Linked DNA regions of Homo sapiens. The gene in region 1 interacts genetically with each later gene. Each region holds a gene or a part of one and is shown in the gene's direction. Other genes may lie near its edges.

Region 1 (5,052 bases):
TTCACAGGGTACCAAGGGCCGCAGAAAGGGAGGTTCCAAAGGAATCTTTTGGGTGGAGGCGAGGCGGTCGGGATGAGCCAGCCAGGCCAGGCAGTGCCTGGCTGAGTGTCAAGCTGCATGAGCTGGGGGTGGGGGAGTGGGTTCAGGTGAGGTGGAGTCTGCAGGGGCTCCTGGGCAGGGGGGCAGGGAAGGGACTGTCCCAAGCCTCCGTTCTATGCCAGCCTCCCTCCCACTGCGTCGTTAGCTTTCATGACAGTGCGCGATCCCTTCGAGTCTCCTAGTGCTCCTTTTTCCCAGACTGCTCTCCTCAAGGGAGAGCTGGGAACGGTGGGATGTACAGGGTGTTAGGTAAGGAGGGGAGGTGGGCGGTCAGCCTGGGCGGGACTTGCCCGAGCTGGCACCCCATGTGCACGTGGAGAGAACTTGGCCTCTGGCCTCCAGGGTCCTCCCTGGCCTCTCCTTGGTGGGGATGGTTGTGAGCCATGGCAGCCCCTGCTGAGTGCACTGTTGGGTAGAGTGGGGATGTGACTCTCAGAGCCGCTCCCTGGTATCGGAGCAGGCCCTGGACCTGCTTCTGTGAGGTGCACGGTTAGGAATGGGGCGTTCCTTGATTGTATTAGGCATTGTAGAGGGGCTTGTCCTGAGGGGTTTGTGTTCCCATATTACTGGCCTGTGGGTGCTATTTTAGGTGTTACTGGGGTGATTCTCTGCTGGGCCTGTTTGAGGGGCTGTGTCTGGTCCATTCGGGGTGAGAACAGGTCACTTCGTGGTGGAGGTTCATGCTGTGTTCCTGCTCACTGTCGCAGCACCTGGCAGGATAGGGTCTACCTTGGGTACAGAGTCTAATGGGGCCATGGGGCCTAACTTTCCCAGCCACCCCATTCTTCTGACAGCAGATTCCCACTAGCTGGGCCTTGCTCCAAGTCTGCACTGCAGCAGGGCCTGGTTTTGTGACCATCCATGGCCATGACCATCCAGGTGCTGACCATGGGGAATCCAGACACTCACCCTAACCCCCTTCTATCTGCCAACCCCTAGCTGCGGCGGAGCCCCATCAAGAAAGTCCGGAAGTCTCTGGCTCTTGACATTGTGGATGAGGATGTGAAGCTGATGATGTCCACACTGCCCAAGTCTCTATCCTTGGTAAGGCTTCTGCTCCTTGGAACTGTTGAGTTTTGGAGAGGACCCTCAAGGTGGAGTTAGTGTAGTGACTCTCCAACTGGGCTTCTGGAACCCTGGGCTCTGCAGGGAGGGGCTATCAGGGAGGGTGGGTCCGGGCACCCACTCATGGCTTCAGTCAGCAGCTCTGCTTGTCTCTCACAGAAGGTTTTGTTTGGCAGAGTTGCGCGGCTAGGACATGTTTTAAAAACATGCATCTGGGTCTCCTGCGCTCTCCCAGAGAGGGTCAGTGATGTGTCTTTTTTTTTCTTTTTTTTTTTTTGAATTGGAATTTCGCTCTTGTTGCCCAGGCTGGAGTGCAATGGTGCCATCTCGGCTCACTGCAACCTCCGTCTCCCGAGTTCAAGTTGTTCTCCTGCCTCAGCCTCCCAAGTAGCTGGGATTACAGGCATGCATCACCACGCCCGGCTAATTTTGTATCTTTAGTAGAGACGGGGTTTCTCCATGTTGGTCAGGCTGGTCTCGAACTCCCCACCTCAGGTGATCTGCCTGCCTCGGCCTCCCAGAGTGCTGGGATTACAGGCGTGAGTCACCGTGCCCAGCCTAGTAATGTGTCTTAAGGTATAGCCAGGCACTTGGGCACATTAGTCCTGGGATGGGTGCTATACAGCCCCCAGGCCAGTGGACTTGCTGTGCCGGGTGCTACAGTGAGGTCGACCTCAGAAAGGGGGTTGTTGCCTGTGCAGAGCCTGGGTCCCCAGAAGCCAGGGTGTGCTGCTGATCCCTCTCTGCTCACAATGGGGTGAGTTGGCTTGCCCTGGCTCAGAGTGGGGAGGCGGTGAGAGGCATGGCGGCGTCATGAACAAAGGTTAAGGGTTGCCTGATCTTCCAAGTAGACTGCTGCCCTCACGGTCCTTGCAGAGAAACCTTGTCCTGGCTAGGGGTCTCTGACAGGCTGGGGACCTGCAGCCAGGTTACTGCAAAGAAAAAAACATCACCGCAGGGAGTGAAGAGCACAGATTGAGTCAGGTGGGCCTGGGTTTGAGTTATGACACCATCACTGCTCTCTGGGATCTTTCAGGTTCCCTGAGCCCCAGTTAAAAGCCTATAAAAGGGGTGCCAAGCCTAAGTCAGGAGGGCACAGTGCCAAGCAGAGCAGAGAGACTGGAAGGGCGTGGGAGGGGCTTTGTGCAACTCCGCTGTGCTTGGGGTTGAAGCTGCGTCTTTATGATGCTTGTGGATGTTTCTGGTCCCAGGAAAACTAGGAACAGCCTTGGCTCCTCCTGAGGCTTTATGTGACAAAGCCAACGTTATTGAGTATGTTATTACTGGATAATGCTCAGTGATACTCCACATTTATTGATTATGTTATTATGGCCTGGGGGCTGCACGGCACCCATCCCAGGGCTGATGTGCCCCCACGTACTTGACTGTGCCTCCAGACACACCACTGAATCAGGCTCTGAAACGCACACACGTTTCTTTACTTGATTACTTGATTTTTTTTTTTTAAGTAAGAAAGTTCTTTAGAACAAGATTAAGTTCTTTGCTTAATTTTTTTTTGAGACGGAGTCTGGCTCTGTCTCCCAGGCTGGAATGCAGTGGTGCAATCTCGGCTCACTGCAAGCTCCACCTCCTCCCAGGTTCGCACCATTCTTCTGCCTCAGCCTCCCAAGTAGCTGGGACAACAGGCGCCCACCACCACACCCAGCTAATTTTTGTGTTTTTAGTAGAGACGGGGTTTCACCCTGTTGACCAGGATGGTCTCGATCTCTTGACCTCGTGATCCGCCTGCCTCGGCCTCCCAAAGTGCTGGGATTACAGGCGTGAGCCACCGCTCCTGGCCCTTTGCTTAATCTTTTAAGTATAAAGTAAGCTTAAGCTCATGTAAACTCCCTATCTGAAAGCAGAAACTGAGGCTTGGAAAAGTGTGTATCCTCTTTCAGGTCTCAGCAGCCAGGTGGTGGTGCTGGGGTGGGATTGCGGGTTTTTTTCTTCCCTCTCACAGCTTCTCGCAAAATGGTGACTCCTTGACTTGGTTTTGGTTTCAGCCGACAACTGCCCCTTCAAACTCTTCCAGCCTCACCCTGTCAGGTATCAAAGAAGACAACAGCTTGCTCAACCAGGGCTTCTTGCAGGCCAAGCCCGAGAAGGCAGCAGTGGCCCAGAAGCCCCGAAGCCACTTCACGACACCTGCCCCTGTGAGTGCTGTGGCCATCTCTGGGGGTCCTGCAGTGCCCGCCTTCTTAGCTCAGGGCTGAGTGCTGGCCATCCCTGGGGGTCCTGCAGTGCCCGCCTTCTTAGCTCAGGGCCTTTGCATAGGCTGTTCCTCTGCCTGGGTGCTTTTCCTGCTACTTCCCGTGGCTGCATTTGCTTAACTTACTCTTCTGATTTCAGTCTCAATGCTGCTTCCTTAGGGGTAAGCCTTCTCTGACCCTACATTCTGTAGAGATACCCCCATTCTGCCATTCTCTCTTTTGTGGCCTGGGTTTCACTTGTAACTAAGTCATTATCCCTGTATTTGGTTTGCTTAGTACATGTCTGTCCTCAAGCAGGGGCTGGCTTCAGGCTGCTGACCCGTCTCACTGCTCCTTCTCACCCGCCTCCTGGCTGTGGCTTCTCCTCGAGGCTGGTGCTGCACGGGGCGGGCAGTGCATGGCCATGTCTCCTTGTCCAGCGTCCTACTTACAGTTGAGGAAGCCCACAGCCAGGAAGTGACTTGTCCAGGGTCACAGGGAATGTGGAGAGAGAATAAGAAGGCTCTGGCTTCTAGGGGAGGGAGGCTTATAACTCTACCCTTCCCTGGCCAGGATCACCAGGGTCTGTTGGGAACACATAGTCCCTGCCTGGATGGTAACCCTCTTGCCTCCTCCCAGATGTCCAGTGCCTGGAAGACGGTGGCCTGCGGGGGGACCAGGGACCAGCTTTTCATGCAGGAGAAAGCCCGGCAGCTCCTGGGCCGCCTGAAGCCCAGCCACACATCTCGGACCCTCATCTTGTCCTGAGGTGTTGAGGGTGTCACGAGCCCATTCTCATGTTTACAGGGGTTGTGGGGGCAGAGGGGGTCTGTGAATCTGAGAGTCATTCAGGTGACCTCCTGCAGGGAGCCTTCTGCCACCAGCCCCTCCCCAGACTCTCAGGTGGAGGCAACAGGGCCATGTGCTGCCCTGTTGCCGAGCCCAGCTGTGGGCGGCTCCTGGTGCTAACAACAAAGTTCCACTTCCAGGTCTGCCTGGTTCCCTCCCCAAGGCCACAGGGAGCTCCGTCAGCTTCTCCCAAGCCCACGTCAGGCCTGGCCTCATCTCAGACCCTGCTTAGGATGGGGGATGTGGCCAGGGGTGCTCCTGTGCTCACCCTCTCTTGGTGCATTTTTTTGGAAGAATAAAATTGCCTCTCTCTTTGTGCTGGTCTGGACTCTGCCTCTCTACTGGGCCCTGCTCATGGTTCCCTGGTGACCTAGGGGCCTCTTCTGGGATATAGGGACCTGAATGCTCATCCTCAGAGGCCAGCCTTATCGGCACAGCCCAGGCCTGAGCCCTTGACCCTGTTTCCACAGAGGGGCACAATGAGATGAGAGCAATTTCTCTCGTCTCTGCACCCAGTGGGCATCTCTGCAAAGCTCTGAGTATTAATAGCCATGGGGTTGGGCGGGGGTGGGCAGAGACTGGGGGCGGAGGAGGACGATGGGTTGGTGCAGTAGGGCCTTGCCTGGCCCTTGCCTTGGGTGGCTCACCTGCCCATTAACAAGCCCCTGCCTCAAGCTGAGCGTGGCCCCCAGGTCAGACCAGTAAGCAAGGAAGAGGGGTGAAGGCAGCTGGGCAGAACCCTCTAGCCCCATTGGCCAAGGCTGAGCAGGAGGCCAGGATGGGCCAGAGCCTCTGCCCTTGTGGCCCTAAATCCCTAGGGTTGTGGCTACAGAGCACAGTGCTTGGC
Region 2 (7,545 bases), on another chromosome or scaffold:
TAGTTAATGAGTCTCACGAGATCTGATTGTTTTTAAAAAATGGGAGTTTGCCTGCACAAGCTCTCTCTTTGCCTGCCACCATCCACTTAAAATGTGACTTGCTCCTCCTTGCCTTCAGCCATGTGGAATTGTGAGTTCTCCATTAAACCTCTTTCCTTTGTAAATTGCCCAGTCTTGGGTGTGTCTTTATCAGCAGTGTGAAAATGGACTAATACAGTAAATTGGTACCAGGAGTGGGGTGTTGATGAAAAGATACCCAAAAATGTGGAAGTGACTTTGGAACTGGGTAACAGGCAGAAGTTGAAACAGTTTAGAGGGCTCAGAAGAAGAGAGGAAAATGTGGGAAATTTTCAAACTTCCTAGAGACTTGTTGAATGGCTTTGACCAAAAGCCTGATAGTGATATAGACAATAAGGTCCAGGCTGAGGTGGTATCAGATGGATATGAGGAACTTGTCGGGAACTGGAGCAAAGGTGACTCTTGTTATATTTTAGCAAACAGACTGGCAGCATTTTGCCCATCCTAGAGATTTGTGGAATTTTGAACTTGAGAGAGATGATTTAGGGTGTCTGGCCGAAGAAATTTCTAACCAGCAAAGCATTCAAGAGGTGACTTGGGTGCTGTTAAAAGCATTCAGTTTTATAAGGGAAGCAGAACATAAATGTTTGAAAAATTTGCAGCCTGACGTGATAGAAAAGAAAAACCCATTTTCTGAGGAAATCTGCATAACTAAAGAGAAGCTGAATGTTAATACCCAAGACAATGGGGAAAATGTCTCCAGGGCATGTCAGAGGCCTTCATGGCAGCCCCTCCCATCACAGGCCCAGAGGTCTAGGAGAAAATGGCTTCGTGGGCCAGGCCCAAGGTCCCCATGTGTGCTGTGTGCCACCTAGGGAGTTGGTGCCCTGCATCCCAGCCACTCCAGCCATGGCTGAAAGTGGCCAACACAGAGCTTGGGCTGTGATTTCAGAGGTGCAAGCCCCAAGCCTTGGCAGCTTCCACATGGTGTTGAGCCTGTGAGTGCACAGAAGTCAGGAATTGGGCTTTGGGAACCTCCGCCTAGATTTCAGAAGATGTATGGAAACATCTGGATGCCCAGGCAGAAGTTTGTTGCAGGGGCAGGGCACTCATGGAGAATCTCTGCTAGGGCAGTGTGGAAGAGAAATGTGGGGTTGGAGCCCCCACACAGAATCCCTACTGGGCCACTGCCTCATGGAGCTGTGAGAAGAGGGCCATGGTCCTCCGGATCCCAGAATGGTAGCTCCATTGACAGCTTGCACCATTTACCTGGAAAAGCCACAAACAGTCAATGCCAGCCTGGAAAGGGAGATAGGAGGGAGGCTGTACCCTTCAAAGCCACAGGGGCAGAGATGCCCAAGACCATGGGGACCCACCTCTTGGATCAGTGTGACCTGGATGTGAGACAGGGAGTCAAAGGGGATCATCTTGGAGTTTTAAGATTCGACTGCCCTGCTGGATTTCGGACTTGCATGGGGCCTGTAGCCCCTTTGTTTTGGCCAATTTCTCCCATTTGGCATGGTTGTATTTACCCAATGCCTGTACCACCATTGTATCTATGAAGTAACTAACTTGCTTTTGATTTTACAGGCTCATAGGTGGAAGGAACTTGCTTGTCTCGGATGAGACTTTGGACTGTGGACTTCTGAGTTAATGCTGAAATGAGTTGAGACTTTGGGGGACTGTGGGGAAGGCATGACTGTATTTTGAAATGTGAGGACATGAGATTTGGGAGGGGCTGGGGGCGGAATGATATGGTTTGGCACTGTGTCCCTACCCAAATCTCATCTTGAATTGCAACTCCCACAATTTCCACATATGGTAGGAGGAACCCGGTGGGAGGTGATTGAATTATGGGGGTGGGTCTTTCCTGTGCTGTTCTCATGATAGTGAATGAGTCTCATGAGATCTGATGGTTTTAAAAAAATGGGAGTTTGCCTGCACAAGCTCTCTGTTTGCCTGCTGTCATCCATGTAAGATGTCACTTGCTCCTCCTTGCCTTCCGCCATGATTGTGAGGCTTCCCCAGCCACGTGGAACTGTGAGTTCTCCATTAAACTTCTTTCCTTTGTAAATTGCCCAGTCTTGGGTTTGTCTTTATCAGCAGCGTGAAAATGGACTAACACAGCTGTTCAAAAGATAACATACATGACTACATAACTGAAAAAGTGCTTATTCTACTAAAAAATCTATTTTGTAAGTGCTTATTCTCTTAATAGTAAAGAGTCTGTGAGGGAAGAAATTTGAAATCCCAAGTTCTTTTACTTTATAACTAGAAGTAAGTCATTTAAATCTTCCTGAACCTCAATTTCTCCAGGGTAAAATGGAGCTAATACTAACTACAGGCAGTATATGGCAGAGGTGACCTGAATGGAAAGAAATACTTCTGAGAATGAATGACAATCAAGCATAGTAAGATCACCCATGCCTAGAAATGACAAAACCCAAAATATTATCAAAGCAAGATGAAGGATTCTAATATTATCCAAATCTATCTAAAATTACCCATATTTAATCAAGGTAAACTGAATATGGTTCCAGAAAAGCAGGAATACAGCTTGCGTGAATGGAAAGATCAATGGAATTAGATTTAAGATCTACACTTATTAGTGGTGTAGTGAGGGCAAACTCCCAAAGCCTCAGTTTCTGTATTGTGGGTGTTTTGCACATTTATCTGACAAAGATTTATGGACTATTTACTAGGGCCAGGGCTTTACTAGGTAAGTGCCATACAAAAATGAAGGCATTGCTCTTGCCTTCAATTTCAATACAATGTAACAAATATTATAACAATAAGGGCTACTGAATATTTTCTAAGTACTAGGTACTATTATAAATACTTTTTACTCATTAAATCTTTACTCCCTTTCACTATCTAAAACATAGGTATTATCACAGAAAAGAGGCATAGAGAAGTTAACTATCTTGCCCAGCACCAAACAGTTATCAGAGGCTGGAGCTGGGATGTATCTTTTTTTTTTTTTTTTTTTTTGAGAAGGAGTCTCGCAATGTTGCCCAGGCTGGAGTGCAGTGGCGCGATTTCGGCCCACTGCAACTTCTGCCTCCCGGGTTCAAATGATTCTCCTGCCTCAGCCTCCCGAGTAGCTGGGAGTACAGGCGTGCGCCACCACGCCTGGCTAATTTTTGTATTTTCAGTAGAGATGAGGTTTCACCATGTTGGCCAGGCTGGTCTCGAACTCCCGACTTCAGGTGATCCACCCGCCTTGGCCTCCCAAAGTGCTGGGATTATAGGCTTGAGCCACCGCGCCCGGCAAAGGAGCTGGGAAATATTTTGACAGAGGGCAAGAACTTGCTAATCTGTGCAAGTGAGGGGTAGTGGTGGAGGCTTTCCACACTCAAGGGGCAGTTTTAGTTCACCCATTCGCAAACGTACTTAAAAATTACCTCTTAGAGTTGTGCTGAATAAATGAAACAGTATATTTAAGTCAGTATTGTGCCTGGGACATGTAAGCTCTTAATTAATGTTATTAATTTCATTTTATTCCTTTAAGTTGGATCACTGGCGAACAACGTGAGAATGTTTTCATGCCTTTGGCTACACATTAAAGCGACCTCTCCAAATGGGTTGTCGCATTTTACATTGCTACCAACAATGTAACAGCCTTCTAGTTGCTTTATGCTCCGATATACGAAAGAGCCCCACCATTTGATTCTGTTTTTCAGTTTCTGACAGCCTCACCTACTTTCTCTTTCAAGTTCATCTGCCACATTTTTACTTATTTTATTTTTTTGAGACGGAGTCTCGCTTTCTCACCCAGGCTGGAGGCTGGGGTGCAGTGGCGTGATCTCGGCTCACTGCGATCTCCGCCTCCCGGGTTCAAGCGATTCTCCTGCCTCAGCTTCCCGAGTAGCTGGGACTACAGGCGCGCGACACCACGCCGGCTAATTTTGTATTTTTAGTAGAGACGGGGGTTTCACCATATTGGCCAGGCTGGTCTCGAACTCCTGACCTCGTGATCCGCCCGCTTCGGGCTCCCAAAGTGCTGGGATTACAGGCGTGAACCACCGCGCCCGGCCCATCTGCCCCATTTTACATCACCACTGCCGTCACAAACAAAGTTCTCGTAAGAACCGCCAAGCGGCGCGTGGGCGGCCGCCCCATCCCACTATAATTGCGGCCTCGCAGCCTGACCCGGGGCGCCAACGCTCAATCCGGTTCTCGCGGGAAGATACACGGTTTTTAAGAAAGAACTTCTAACCCCACTCCACCGCCCAACGGTCACGTGACGCGCCTGCGTCCTCGCCTCAAGGTTTTTTCTGGTCGCATATTGGCTGTTAACTCGGCTACGGGGTGTAGCGAGGTGCATTCCGGAAGTAGGTCCTTTGACTTTTGCTTCCTCTACGGAGGCAAGTAACAACCCGGCGGTCGACGCTTAGCGGAAGTTCGTCAAGTCGCAGTTGCCCCCGCACAGCGGATGTGGGTCGCCTCTTAGGTGACGCTGGGAAGTGCCTGCAGCCTTCGCCGCTGCCTTCTGGTTGAAGCACTATGGAGGGAGAGAGGAAGAACAACAACAAACGGTGGTATTTCACTCGAGAACAGCTGGAAAATAGCCCATCCCGTCGTTTTGGCGTGGACCCAGATAAAGAACTTTCTTATCGCCAGCAGGCGGCCAATCTGCTTCAGGACATGGGGCAGCGTCTTAACGTGTATCCTTGTGGCCTAGGCCTTCGGCCTTGGAGTTGGTCCCGCCATGCTCTGGCGTCCGGGTCTCAGGCTCTGTGGGGGGGACGAAAGTGGGGAAGAAGGTGGGCAGAAGCTGGATGTCTAGTTGGGAGAGCCCACGATGGGGCGGGCTGAAACTCAGTTAGCGCTAGGGAAGCGAGGCAGAGTTGATTTCCCGCTCGCTCACCCGTGCCGCCAGCCTTGCTGGGAATTCGTATCCTTCCCGGCTTTGTGTTTTAACCAGCCCTTCCAACTCTGTCTTCATTGTGTTCTGATCTGCTCTGGTGACGTTAAGATTCTCATTTTCCGCTGTGCCCTAGGGGTCTAGGTCTGGCAGAGGTTTCTCTGTTGACGGCTGCCTCCCAAACCTAGTGTGTAAATTTCGAGAAATTCAGTACCTGAAAGTGTTATAAAGGGTGGACTAGAATTAATGCCTCAGCCTTGGTCCAAAATCCATTCCTCATCTACTAGCTGTTTAAGTGACCTCTCAAATTTTTGGCCGTCTTGTCTATAAAATGGGATAATACCTCTTGTGTTTGATTCTGTGTCCAGCACAGTGCTTTGCATTCAGATGCTCAGTTAGTAGCTACTGTTTTATAGAATTTCAGAGGAAAGATGTTAGTTTACGTTTGTAGGGGATACCCACGAATCTAATGTTTTAAATAGTTTACAAAATACCGGGTCCTTAACTTACTTAGAGTGATGATATGTATTTCATTTTCAAAAATGAGGTAACGGCTGGATGCGGTGGCTCACGCCTGTAATCTCTGCACTTTGGGAGGCCGAGGCGGGTGGATCACCTGAGGTCAGGAGTTCGAGACCAGCCTGGCCAACATGATTAAACCCCTGTCTCTACTAAAAATACAAAAAATTACCCCGGCGTAGTGGCGGGCAGCTGTAATCCCAGCTAGTCAGGAGGCCGACGCAGGAAAATCGCTTGAACCCGGGAGGCGGAGGTTGCAGTTAGCCGAGATGGCGCCACTGCACTCCAGCTTGGGCAACAATAGTGAAACTCCGTCTCAGAAAAAAAAAATTAAAAAAAAAATGAGGTAACCTCTCCCACATATTTTTGTTTGTTAGGAAATACACTTATTTTATGGTGGAGAAAACTAGTATAGTTTTAAATTTCTTTCCACTCTGCGTGTGAAAATTTTCTTGGGTGCAGCTTCTATTTAAATGTGTGGCTGACAGTAATGTGTGTATCTTAAGGGTGTGTTCATCTCAAAATGGGTGTCTGTTTTATCGCCAGTTTGTTTCCTGCTGATGTCCAGGTTTGTTTCCTAAGCATCCTGTCAGTATGGAGTTAAATCTTTTTGTTCGAAATTCTATTTCAGTGCATCCTTAAAATGCTTTCCTTTTTGTATGTGTGTTGTCATTAAGGTTGTCAGCCAGGCGCGGTGGCTCGCGCCTGTAATACCAGCACTTTCGGAGGCCAAGGCAGGTCGATCAGTTGAGGCCAGGAGTTCAAGACCAGCCTGGCCAACATGGTGAAACCATGTCTCTACTAAAAATACAAAAAGTAGCCAGGTCTGTTGGTGGGCGCCTGTAATCTCAGCTACTGGGGAAGCTGAGGCAGGAGAATCGCTTGAATTTGGGAGGTAGAGGTTTCAGTGGGCCAAGATGGTGCCACCGCACTCCAGTGTGGGCGACAGAGTGTGAGCCACCGCGCCTGGCCGCCTTATATAGTTTTTAAAAAAATCTGTCTAGATTCATACATCCTGAGATGTTTGTTTATTCATTCAGTACATTTATATTAAATATTTGTTATGTGTAAGGCATTGTGCTAAGTGTCAGTTGGCGATTAATAATTTGGTGAAAGAAAACAGACATATTCTTTGATTTGGAGAGATAAGTATGATTTTCATTTAGTAGTATCTACTTGCTTGGCCATTTCATCCTTTTGGGAGGGAGATAGAGGTTATCTTTTCCAGAATTATACCTGCCTGTTTTTGGATCTTAACTTGAACACTTCAGCTCACAATTGACTATCAACACTGCTATAGTATACATGCATCGATTCTACATGATTCAGTCCTTCACACAGTTCCCTGGAAATGTAAGTATAATTTTTTTATATGATATAATCCTTTTGTGATTGATTCCACCTACCTATTCCATTTGTGGTTGGTCTTTGCTACTGAACTGTAACTTGAACTTTAGAATTTAGGGTTGATCACTTCCATTATGTGCTGTGTTGCTGTTCTGAATCCAGCTTTTCAGTTTTCCTGTTAAGTGTCTACTTGTCTAGTGGATTTAGTATATCCATGTCGATTCTCTAAAGAAGTAGATTAGGCCGGGTGCAGTGGCTCACAACTGTAATCCCAGCACTTTGAGAGACTGAGATGGGAGGATCACTTGAGCCCAGGAGTTCAAAACCAGCCTGGGCAACATAATGAGACCTCATTTCTACAAAATATCAAAAACAAAAACAAAAAGCAAGTAGCTGGGTGTTGTGGTATGCATCTGTGGTCTCAGCTACTCCAGCAGCTGGCAAGAGGATTGCTTGAACTCAGGGAGTTGAGGATGCAGTGAGCCAAGATTGAGTCGCTTCACTCCAGCCTGGGCATCAGAGTGAGACCCTGTCTTCAAAAAAAACCCCAAAAAACAGATTATCAGACATCTAAAGTCAACATTTTGGGGTTGGAGGAGTAACATTAAAGGGGAAATCATGTGGAATTTAGGTATAGCTTTCTTTTTCTTGCTGGGGTAGGGAGACAGGCAGGGTCTTGCCCTGTTGTCCATGGTGGAATGCAGTGATTTGATTATGGCTCATTGCAGCCTTAACCTTCTGGGCTCAAGCAGTCCTCCTGCCGTAGCCTCCCAAGTAACTGGGACCACAGGCTT

The links.
Region 2: of MYBL2 (region 1) and CCNT1, changing one suppresses a phenotype caused by changing the other (phenotypic suppression), as found in Homo sapiens cells (one study listed by BioGRID).

Annotation. Positions count from the first base shown.
Region 1 is NC_000020.11:43,711,964-43,717,015, forward strand, and holds the end of MYBL2 (myb-related protein B), read left to right. Parts: intron 1-1,038; coding exon 1,039-1,143; intron 1,144-3,170; coding exon 3,171-3,320; intron 3,321-3,995; coding exon 3,996-4,124; 3' UTR 4,125-4,519; downstream 4,520-5,052. UniProt on the Homo sapiens protein: Transcription factor involved in the regulation of cell survival, proliferation, and differentiation. Transactivates the expression of the CLU gene.
Region 2 is NC_000012.12:48,713,655-48,721,199, reverse strand, and holds the start of CCNT1 (cyclin-T1), read left to right. Parts: upstream 1-4,492; 5' UTR 4,493-4,524; coding exon 4,525-4,685; exon of another isoform or gene 4,686-4,915; intron 4,916-6,675; coding exon 6,676-6,757; intron 6,758-7,545. UniProt on the Homo sapiens protein: Regulatory subunit of the cyclin-dependent kinase pair (CDK9/cyclin-T1) complex, also called positive transcription elongation factor B (P-TEFb), which facilitates the transition from abortive to productive elongation by phosphorylating the CTD (C-terminal domain) of the large subunit of RNA polymerase II (RNA Pol II).